Homo sapiens: one gene and its partners. The protein of the gene in region 1 purifies or fractionates together with the protein of each later gene. This does not show direct contact. Each region holds a gene or a part of one and is shown on either strand. Other genes may lie near its edges. The genes, in order: C6orf141, ZNF318 and KRABD3.

Evidence for each region.
Region 2: the proteins of C6orf141 (region 1) and ZNF318 purify together in Homo sapiens (affinity purification with mass spectrometry; 2 studies listed by BioGRID and IntAct, with this or other methods). This does not show direct contact.
Region 3: the proteins of C6orf141 (region 1) and KRABD3 purify together in Homo sapiens (affinity purification with mass spectrometry; 2 studies listed by BioGRID and IntAct, with this or other methods). This does not show direct contact.

What each region holds. Positions count from the first base shown.
Region 1 is NC_000006.12:49,549,110-49,552,687, reverse strand, and holds C6orf141 (uncharacterized protein C6orf141), read right to left. Parts: upstream 2,021-3,578; 5' UTR 1,896-2,020; coding exon 1,161-1,895; 3' UTR 593-1,160; downstream 1-592.
Region 2 is NC_000006.12:43,352,519-43,356,168, reverse strand, and holds part of ZNF318 (zinc finger protein 318), read left to right. Parts: intron 1-23; coding exon 24-1,505; intron 1,506-3,650.
Region 3 is NC_000007.14:149,717,807-149,721,456, forward strand, and holds part of KRABD3 (protein KRBA1), read left to right. Parts: intron 1-1,662; exon of another isoform or gene 1,663-1,739; coding exon 1,740-1,866; intron 1,867-2,201; coding exon 2,202-2,321; intron 2,322-3,028; coding exon 3,029-3,184; intron 3,185-3,573; coding exon of another isoform or gene 3,574-3,576; coding exon 3,577-3,650.

The DNA of each region.
Region 1 (3,578 bases):
TAGATCAGATGATCTTTTGAGAACACTTCAAGCTCTAAACTAAAAATGAAGGCAAAAGGGAAGACTGGGGAAGGAGGCACTTTTCAACTATTTGCTCATCAAAAGCCAGAGTCCTACCTGCTTTGTTAATTCTTGCAGTAAATACTCCTTCAGGTGGTAAAGTCAAGCAGTTCACCTGGAGAGGGCTGCTTTGCTCCTCACAGAGCTTCAACCAGGCCAACTACTAAAGAGTTAATTCACATAGTATTTAATAATAAAGAGGAACAAACAAAATAAGAAAAATTAGTTGTTTCAGTATTACCAGAGGAGATTTTTTTGAACTACACAAGGAGAATGGTATCTTCAATCTATTCTTGACTACAAGTCTCATTAATGAAGAACTATGGAAAAGAATAAGACATGCATTCATTTTATGGCAAACTACATATTGCTATCTACCTTTAGTTCAGAACATTTACATGCAGTATTTTTAATATTAAAATTAAAATGTATGATAAATGCATGTTTACAGGACTAAATTAGCTATTGTTTGCAGTAAAGCCTTTGTAAATGGAATTTCACGTTGAAATCTTAGTCTTCTGTCCCCAACTCCTTCTTTCCCTAGCTCCTCTCGTTTTCTTTCTAACACTGAAATGTGGGGGAGAAAAATGAAAAGTGCACATCAGAAGAGAGTCACTTGCTGCTTTGGTTTTACTTTCCCATTTCTTTTTACTTTCTGTTTTTGGCTTTTAAAACAAGCCTCTTCTCCACCCACTCCCACCCTCTTTGCAGAGAGCAGACTTCAAACTTCACTTCTGTTTCTAGGTCCTAAAGAGAAACAAGAGGGGGGCGGGGAACAGAAAAGAGATCAATTGAGAGTTATTCCAAAATGCAAATTAACAACAGGTTTTCTCATTTCAAAACTCCCACATTCTGCCAATCTGAAAATATCTTTTCTCCACCTCTTCTGAATGACTTAGGTCCCCAGACAGCGAAGGAATTCAAGCCACAAAGGAGGTATTATGCTGCTTACAGTTCTTAATCTGCCTCCCCGAAGCGCTGCACCAGCCTCTCAAAAGGTTCCTTCTGTAGGTTAATTGCAGGTTGGAGCTCCCAGAATAGCATTTTCTTTTAAGGATGATCGCTCATCCACCATCCCGGAACATTTCTCGAGCTACTCATTAGAGTTTAATTTCCTCGAGCCAAGTCCCTGGAGACGGTGAAACCCTCCTCCCCGCGGCGTGGACGCGGGATGCCCCTGTTCGTGCCTGGAGAGCCCGGGATTCAGCAGGGCCCCAGCGTTCCCCAGGCTGTCCCTCTCTACTGCTGCGAAAAGTGAGCGCGGTCACGAAGTGCTCCTCAGTCCTCGTGGTCATGCGACCCTTGGCCCAGGAGGTCTGCAACACTTCTTGTGTTACCTGATAATCCTCCACCCGCACAAGCACGTATTTGGGTGGGTCTGCTGCGTCCCGCGGCGGGGCTACACGCCTGCCAGAAATTCGCTTTTGTCGTTGAAAGACAGAAGGGTAGTTGGGCTCCTCGCCGTGGTCCTCTCCACCCGCATGAGGAAGGTCCTCTGCACCGGCCACCTCTTCCCGTGCAGGGTCCCCTCGAGTCCCTAACCACCTCTCTGGGTGCAGGAGAAAGAGCACTTTCTCTCTGACCCAGGACTCACGGTCCAATTCCTCCCCGGCCCGAGGTCCGAGGGCCCGATCTGCCGTTCTGTCCTCGTGGCCGCCGCCCTGGCTTCGGCTCGCCCCTGCCGTCGCGGGATTCCGGGCGCCCGGAGCTAGCGGAGCCCCGCGCCCTACCTCCCGCGGAAAAGGCCCGAGGTCCCCCAGGCTGCGGGAGGAGTCCATGGGATTCGCAGCTCCCTGAGGCCCCCGGGTCTCCATCCTGGCAAAAGGGTCATTCATTCGTTCCTTCTTTGACCGGTTCAAGCAGCAAGCGCCTGCTGAGCTCCGGAAAGCGCGGGACCACCAAGCCCTGGGTGTGGCCTCTGCTGCAGCTCCGGACTCCCAGCCGGTGAAAGCTGAAGACTAGATCAGCCCCAGGCTAACCGCGTGCGGAACCCGCCTCTTCACCCTCCGCCTCTCCCACCTGGCGGCTGTCTAGCCATTCAGAAGAAGCTTGACACAAGCCCCAGTCACTCCTCTTCTTCCTCCTACCCCTGTCCGGAGCCCTGCTCCCTTTGTCATTCGCTGATTCAGTCCCCTCTTACTTTTCACCTCTATCCTAGTTTCCCACCCACCTTTCGTTTTTCTCCGGAGCTGAGGCGCAAAGGACACCCTCGCACTGCGCCCCCACTGAAATGCCCCGAAGTATGTTTGCTTTCCAAGGACGCTCCTTGAGGTGAAGGAACAAAGAAGTTTGTGTGCATTTTAATTAGCTGATCTAATTCTGAAAAGGGTTTTTGTCCATTCCGAATCCACTCCCACCATGCTGCCAAAATAATGGAATGTAGATCAAATGGTCAGACTGAAAAGCTGAAGCCTTGGAGAAACTGGTTTTGGTTTCTTTGTCCTTCTTCCTTTAGAATGCCAGAATCTGTAGCTCTGGAGGACAATGGTCACACCTGTGTCCTCCTCCTCCTCTTCCTCCTCCTTCTTTTTTCCCGCTCTCTTTCTCTCTCCCTCTCCCCGCTCCCCCTTCCTCTTACCCCACCCCCCCACATTAGATATGGTCTCGCTCTGTAGCTCAGGATAGAGTGCAGTGGCGCAGCCTCGACTTTCCAGGCTCCCACCTCAGCCCGTCAAGTAGCCGGGACTACAGGCGCGCACCCCCATGCCCGGCTTTTATTTATTTATTTATTTATTTATTTATTTATTTATTTATTTATATTTTTCTAAGAGATGGTAGGGGTGGGGCTCTCCTATATTGCCCAGGCTGGTCTGGAACTCCTGGGCTTACGAGATACCCAGGATCCCCCACCCTACCCACACACCCACCTGGGCCTCCCAAAATTCTGGGATTACAGGCTTGAGCCACGGCCCTGGCCAGTCTTCATTTTGTGTGTAATCAACGCTTGTCTCAGGAAGGTGTAGTCTTTGATTTAAAACAAGCTATAAAACAGAAGCAAAACAAACATCCAAATGAATTTTTTCAGGACTTAAAATTGTTTGTGTTTGTGTCGTTTATAAAATTCCCTCTGCACCCACCCGTCCTCTTTAACCACAGGGGTTAAAAAAAGTTAAGTGTCTCTGGCGAGGCTTTTAGAATTTACCCATAGGCAGGCCCGCTGACCACTACTCTTTGCCTAAGGTTAACCGGGGAGGCTAGGTCATAGAAAAAGAGCTCAGTTTGTGGTTTCCAGTTCATCCTTAGCTGTTTGTTTTATTAAAAAACCCACTGATGGCTGGGTGTGGTGGTTCACACCTGTAGCCCCATCATTTTGGAAGTCTGAGGCCGGTGGATCACTTGATGCCAGGAGTTTGAGACCAGCCTGGTCAGCATGGTGAAACCCAGTCTCTACAAAAAGTACAAAAATTAGTCAGGCATGGTGGTACACACATGTAAGTAATCCCAGCTACTTGGGATGCTGAGGCACCAAATCGCTTGAACGGGAGAGGGGGAGGTTGCAGTGAGCCAAGATCATACCA
Region 2 (3,650 bases), 6.2 Mb from region 1:
ATCAGTTGTGTTTGTCTTTGCAGCTTGAGAGTTTTTCCAGCAGTACCAGCTCCAGCCAGGATCACCCTCTCTACTCTGGGCACCCATCCCTTCCACTAAGTGGTGCTATTGCTGCTTTTGCCTCAGAGATTGAAAACAAGGGGACTATGGTAGAGACTGCCTTGAAGGAACCTCAGGGCAACCTCTACCAATGGGGTCCCCTTCCTGGGATTCCCAAAGACAACAGTCCTCTCAGAGAAAAATTTGGAAGTTTTCTATGCCACAAGGATAATTTGGATTTGAAGGCTGAGGGACCTGAGCGACACACAGACTTCCTGCTGCCCCATGAGAGAGCTAGCCAGGATGGCAGTGGTTTTTCCCGCATTCTGAGCATGTTGGCTGATTCTACCAGTACACAGGAAAAAAGGCGACGTAGCTTTCCCGACATTGAAGATGAGGAGAAATTTCTCTATGGGGATGAAGAAGAGGATTTAAAGGCAGAATCCGTACCAAAGCCCCTTGGGAGCTCTGAGAGTGAAGTTATGAGGCAGAAGGCAAGCTCCCTGCCGTCTTCAGCTCCAGCTGTAAAGCTAGAATCACTAGAAGAGACCAATCCAGAATATGCGAAGATCCATGACTTGCTCAAGACAATAGGGCTGGATATTGGAGTAGCAGAGATTAGTCAATTGGCTGCACGCACCCAGGAACGACTTCATGGCAAGAAGCCATCATTACGCTCCTCAGCTGACCGCCGTTCCTCAGTTGACCGATACTTTTCAGCTGACCACTGTTCCTCAGTTGACCACCGCTTCTCAGCTGACCGCTGTTCCTCAGTTGACCACTGCTTCTCAGCTGATCGACGTTCCTCAGATCCCCACAGACTAGAGAGCAGGGAGGCACATCATAGCAATACCCACTCTCCAGAGGTGTCCCATCCACACCCACCTTCTCCTGTGGATCCTTACCTGCTCACAAAAAACAGCCCTCCATTCCTAAAGTCTGACCATCCAGTGGGTCATATTTCAGGACCAGAGGTGGTTGGTAGTGGGTTTCAGTCATCTGTTGCAGTCAGGTGCATGTTGCCATCAGCCCCATCTGCCCCAATTAGACTTCCACACACTGCTGCTTTATCTCAGTTTCACATGCCAAGGGCCTCTCAGTTTGCTGCAGCTCGGATACCTCCGAACTACCAGGGACCTGCCATTCCCCCTGCCTCTTTTGATGCCTATAGGCACTACATGGCATATGCAGCCTCCAGATGGCCCATGTATCCCACCTCTCAACCGTCAAACCACCCTGTACCTGAACCACACAGGATAATGCCAATAACCAAACAAGCTACTCGTAGCCGTCCCAATCTTCGTGTGATCCCCACTGTGACTCCTGATAAGCCTAAGCAGAAAGAGTCTCTGCGAGGCTCAATTCCTGCGGCCCAAGTGCCTGTCCAGGTGTCCATTCCATCACTCATAAGATATAATCCAGAGAAGATCTCTGATGAGAAGAACCGTGCTTCCCAGAAGCAAAAGGTGAATATTAGCTTTGGGTATCCTGTGCCTGAGTTTTCTGTTTTGCCATAAATTTGTATATGTTTTTTAGAAGGGGCTGAAAATTTGTAAGGCTCTTTCACTTGAAGTCGTCTGGAGGCTGCTGTCATCATCCTAAGAAGTGTATATTGTTCCTCTGTTTTTCACACATGTTTTATCATTAGGACTAAACAAAAGTCTGGCCTTGGGTCCTATTGTGATTGTCAGCCTTTTTTAAGTTTAATTCTATCCAAGTTAATGGTCTTCAAACACTGTAGATAGGAACTGGGAGCCTTGAAGTCTTCAATATGATTTCGTAGTGGAGTAGGGAACCAAAATTGGGTGTGGTGAAGGAGAATCAGTAAACCTGTTTGATCCCAGTGAATTCTGTATTCTTACCCTGTAATGATTATGAGTTAAAGTTAATAACTAGTTGTTGCTTGATAATTGAAGCAAACCAAGAAATAAACTTTGCTTGTTCTGGTTTATCTTAGAGTCCAGGAGTAACAGTAACATTTTTGACATGTTATTTATTTAAAAAATTACGTGTGTGTGTGTGTGTATGTGTGTGTATGTATACGTATATTTTATATAGAGATGGAGTCTTCTCACTGTTGCCCAGGCTGATCTTGAACTCTTGGGCTCAAGTGATCCTCCCCTGCCAGCCTCTCCCAGAGTGCTGGGATCACAGGCATGAGCCACTGTGCCTGGCCTCTAAAGTCATTTTTTATATTATCCAGGTTCATTGGGTCCCCAGCCTGTGGGAAGAAAGCAGTGACTGGGGTAAAGATATAATAATTCTAATAATTCTGATAATTTAGAGCAGTAGGTGAAAACTACATCAAGATAGGGAATACATAATAGAAGAATTTTGAGTGGAAGAGTTAATACATACTATTAATTGTAAAGGTGCTTATACCTAGCAACTCACTTTGTTTAGAAACATAAAAATGTAATGTGTCTAATTTGGTTTGCTCATAAAAGTTAAGACCTGGCTGGGCGTGGTGGCTCATGCCTGTAATCCCAGCACTTTGGGAGGCTGAGGCGGGTGGATCACGAGGTCAGAAGATCAAGACCATCCTGGCTAACACGGTGAAACCCTGTCTCTACTAAAAATACAAAAAATTAGCCGGGTGTGGTGGCACGCGCCTGTAGTCCCAGCTACTCAGGAGGCTGTGGCAGGAGAATTGCTTGAACCTAGGAGATGGAGGTTGCAGTGAGCTGAGATCATGCCACTGCACACCAGCCTGGGCAACAGAGCAAGATTCCATCTCAAAAAAAAAAAAAAAAGTTCTGAAGAAAAAAATTAGAGGGCCAGTCTCATTTTTTTCCGGTTAAAAAGTTTTAGCCAATTATTGGGAAGACAAAAAACACTTCTCTTAAGTTTCTATTGGACTTAAATACCCTGAACTTCAATCTTTAGTTTTACTGAAGTCTTTTGGGAAAGGGAATAGGTTCAATGTAGACAAAACTTTAGAGACAGTGTTTGGAGGTCATACACTTCCTCTTTATTTTCCTTTTATAAATCTAGTCCTTAAGTCAGGGCGCTGATAATACATAGGTCTATTATAGACACATACAGGCCTATTATATGCTGGTATAGTATAGACAAGCCATATTTGCTTTTTTTCATTAGGTAGTAGTATAGTTGAAAGATCATGAGCTTTAGGGCAGATATACCTGGATTGTAAATCTACTCTTAATGTGTGACTTTGAGTATTCTACTTAATCTTGTACAACTTCAGTTTTCTGACTATAAAATAGTGAAAATGTGAGGATTAAACAACATGCTACTCTGGGCATACTGCCTATGGGTTATCCCTGGTTTGCAAGGAGCAGTGAAAATAAACAACATGAAATATGTCCCTTACCTATAACACATATGGTTCCTTTATCTATGGTTCCCTTTGGAACTTAGAACCACTATCTAATAGTTGCTATCAGTGCCCTAGATCCTTCCTGCAAAAAACAAACAAACAACCTTTCTGGACAGTATAGTTTTTGAAAAGATGGACAGTTCTATTCTGGAACTTAGAACGAAATATTACTTTGACAGTAAGGTCAGAGCCTGTGTGCAGGCATTTGGATCCTTACATTCAGATAATGTCTAGGAAGAAGGCTTCTGGAAGAGAGAAATAGAAAAGAGAA
Region 3 (3,650 bases), on another chromosome or scaffold:
TGCCGGTTAGTGGCAGGGACAGTTTTTTGTTTTTCTTGAAACAGGGGCTGGAGTACAATGTTGTGACCTTGGCACACTGCAAATTCTGCCTTCCAGGTTCTCCTGCCTCAGCCTCCCAAGTAGCTGTGATTACAGACACCCACCACCATGCCTGGCTAATTTTTGTATTTTATTAGAGATGGGGTTTCACCATGTTGGCCAGGCTGGTCTTGAACTCCTGACCTCAGGTGATCCACCCACCTGGGCCTCCCAAAGTGCTGGGATTACAGGCGTGAACCATCACACCCAGCCTGGGACAGTTTTTAGAATCACTGACTTGGGTGGGTGCAGGGGCTCACGCCTGTAATCCTAGCACTTTGGGAGACCAATGTGGGAGAACCACTTGAGCCCAGGAGTTCAAGACTGGCCTGGGCAACATAGTAAGGTCCTGTCTTTTTTAATTAATTAATTAAAATAACTGCCCTGAGCAGATGAAACAAGCGGTGAATTGTCTTTGCTTTATTAGGGGCGTGTTCATTTTCTTTAATAATTTGTTCTCACAAATAAACAGTTTAACATTCATTTCTCAACAGGAAGGACCCTTCCCATAATTTACCTTCTGTTTGCTTAATTTGCACAGTTAATTTTTGCCATAATTTTAAATTCAAGCCTATTGATGCTGGTCATTTTCTAGTGTCTGATGGCCACTTTAAAGTCCACTGAAGGACTTTTTTTTTTTTTTTTTTTTTTTGAGATGGAGTCTCGCCATATTGCCCAGACTGGAGTGCAATGGCGTGATCTCGGCTCACTGCAACCTCTGCCTTCCGAGGTCAAGCAATTCTCCTGCCTCAGCCTCCTGAGTAGCTGAGATTACAGGCGCCCACCACCACACCTAATTTTTGCATTTTTAGTAGAGACAAGGTTTCACCATATTGGCCAGCCTGGTCTCGAACTCCTGATCTCAGGTGATCTGTCTGCCTTGGCCCCCCGAAGTGCTGGGATTACAGGCGTGAGCCACCACACCCAGCCGAAGGATTATTTTGTAAAGAAACATAGACAAAAATGCTCGTGTTATTTTAAAAAGCCACAGGGTAGGAGGAGATGAGTACAGAGAATAGGAGATAGGAGTACAGGGTGTAAAGGAGCCTGGTGACCCAAAGCTTCCAAGGGCAACCCCAGGTTTCTTCTGAGCACTTCTCTAAACCCAGCACACAAACTAGGTGGACAGCAAGAATGTCTTCTCTCACAGCCCTGCAGACCCGAAGCCCTACGTCACAGTGTGGGCAGGCCACACTCCCTCTGAAGGCTCTGGGCCAGGATCCTTCTTGCCTCTTGTGGCTTCTGGTGGCCCTGGGCATTCCTTGGCTTGTGGCTGCATGACTGTAGTCTCTGCCTGTCTTCACACAGCTTTCTTCTTTTGTGTCTGTCTCTGTGTCTCTTCTGATAAGGAATGAGTCATACTGGACTAAGGGTCCCCCCTACTTAGGAGTATGACCTCATCTTAAGTAATTCCATCTGCAGGGACTCTGTTTCTAAATAAGGTCCTACTTACAGGCGTGAGGGTTAGGACTTCAGCGTGTCTCTGCAGAGACACAGCTCACCCCCAGCACTGTCTCTTGAGGGGATTCCTGCATGTCAGACCCTGGCTATTATCCTGGAGTGTGCGCCTGGAGGCCTAGGTGGGGTTACCAAGTGCAGGGACAGCTAGGCTGTCCCCTCTGGGATGGAACAACCAACCCCCCCGGAGACTGTGCCTGCAGGTGTCCATCACCTTCAAGGACTTGGCCGTGCGGTTCTCGGAGGAGGAGTGGCGGCTCCTGGAGGAGGGGCAGAGGGAGTTCTACCGAGACGTGATGCGGGAGAACTACGAGACGCTGGTCTCTGTGGGTAAGGACGGGAGGGAGCAGCACGTGTGGCAGGAGCCTGGTGGGCGGTGGAAGGGAGGCCGGAGTCCCTGGACCCGGCAGCCTTAGTCTTTCCACCTGAGAAATGAACACGGGGATCGTTCACGCTGCTGCTATTCTATGTCCCGGGACCGGGTTCTAGGTACAATTCGGTGGGGGTATGCGGCGGCCTCTGAGGTTCCGACCACTCTGCGGTTCTTTGAGTTTAAGTGGTCACATGAATGTGCACAGACCTGCAGGGGCCTGGGCTGCTATGCAACTGTGTGCGAAGCGGAGACCACTCCATTCCCAGGGCCACAGTTCCCTCTTCTTTCCCAGGGACAGCTGAGCTGCTCCCCCTCTCTGCTTTCCTGTCACCCTCAGAGCCTGGAAGAGCTGTTGGGGGAGGGAGCCACGCTGATGAGGGGCAGGAGCCTGCTGGTTGTGGAGATCCCCAGGGTAAGTTATCTGTCAGACTTTGGGTGTCTCCTCCCACTCATCGGTCCTCAGCCCCAGGCAATGCGTGACCTCAGCCTACTCAGTCCAGCCTCTCACCTCCCTGCCTCCCCTACTGCAACCTCCCAAGCTTTCACCCCTCATCCCTCTGGGCTGGAAGCCTGTTATGCAGAGAAGCACTCAGAGAAAGCCTGGGGTCACCCTGGAGAGTACCTCCTGCCTCAGGCCCCCCACCCACCACCACCCTGAAGCCTTATCACAGCCACCCCTGCAGAACCTGCTCCAGCTCCCAAAAGTCCTGCCACGAGGCTTACATCCCAAGACCTCAGATGGTGGATGTGCTCCACCGGCCCAGACTGGGCAAGGCCAGGCATTTAGGGGGTGCCAGGAAAGGCAGAGGGCCCAGATGGTGGAAGAAGTGTAGCGGCAGCCCGCCTGGGCATTCCCCTGGGAGGCATGGAGATTAATGAGTAACGTAGAACAGAGGAGCCCTGTTACCCAGGCCCCGCCCCCATGCCCTGGCTGTCCCTTGGCCAGAGCGCCTGGCCTGAGCCCAGGTCCTCTATATCTCATGGGACATGGTGTCTCCTCTGGCTGCTCCTCATGTGGCTGGGAGGATTACGTGAGATGCTGGGTGTGAAAACACGCACGTAGGTGTGAGTGCTGAGCAGCCGCAGGGGTGCGGGGGGGTCACTGTGGCCTCTCTGCAGGGGGACAGCCCCGGCACAGCCTGCACCTCACAGCCCTGGTGCAGCTGGTGAAGGAGATCCCAGAGTTCTTGTTTGGAGAAGTCAAGGGCGCTATGGACAGCCCCGAGAGCGAGAGCCGGGGAGCCAGCCTGGATGGAGAGAGAGCGAGCCCCGAGGGTAAGTCAGACAGTGGGGCAGTGCACGCAGCCTCCTCTGCACTCCGCATGATGAAGCACAAGTCCACGGCACTGCACTGCATGTGGGCTTGCAGGCACAGGCCGGGAGGCAGAGTCACCTGCTGTTCCTCGTGGCTAGGCCGTGTGCCGCCCTCTGAGCACATGCCCATAGCTGGCGAGAGGGCAGCTCTGACTTTCGCATGGTGGTTTCTGTGTGGCTTTGTCACCCTCCACCCACCATGGCCCCATTCAGAGCCCAGTGATGACAACACATAGGTGGCTGACATCCTGGTCATTGTTAGTACATGGCAAGGAAAGGACCCAGAATGTGACAGTGTGACAATGTTAGGGGCATCTTACCAGTTGTTGATTCTCCCTCTTTCCCGACAGCAGCTGCGGCAAGAGAGCCCTGCCCTCTCCGAGGCCTGCTCAGCTGCCTTCCAGACGGCCCTACCAGCCAGCCCCAC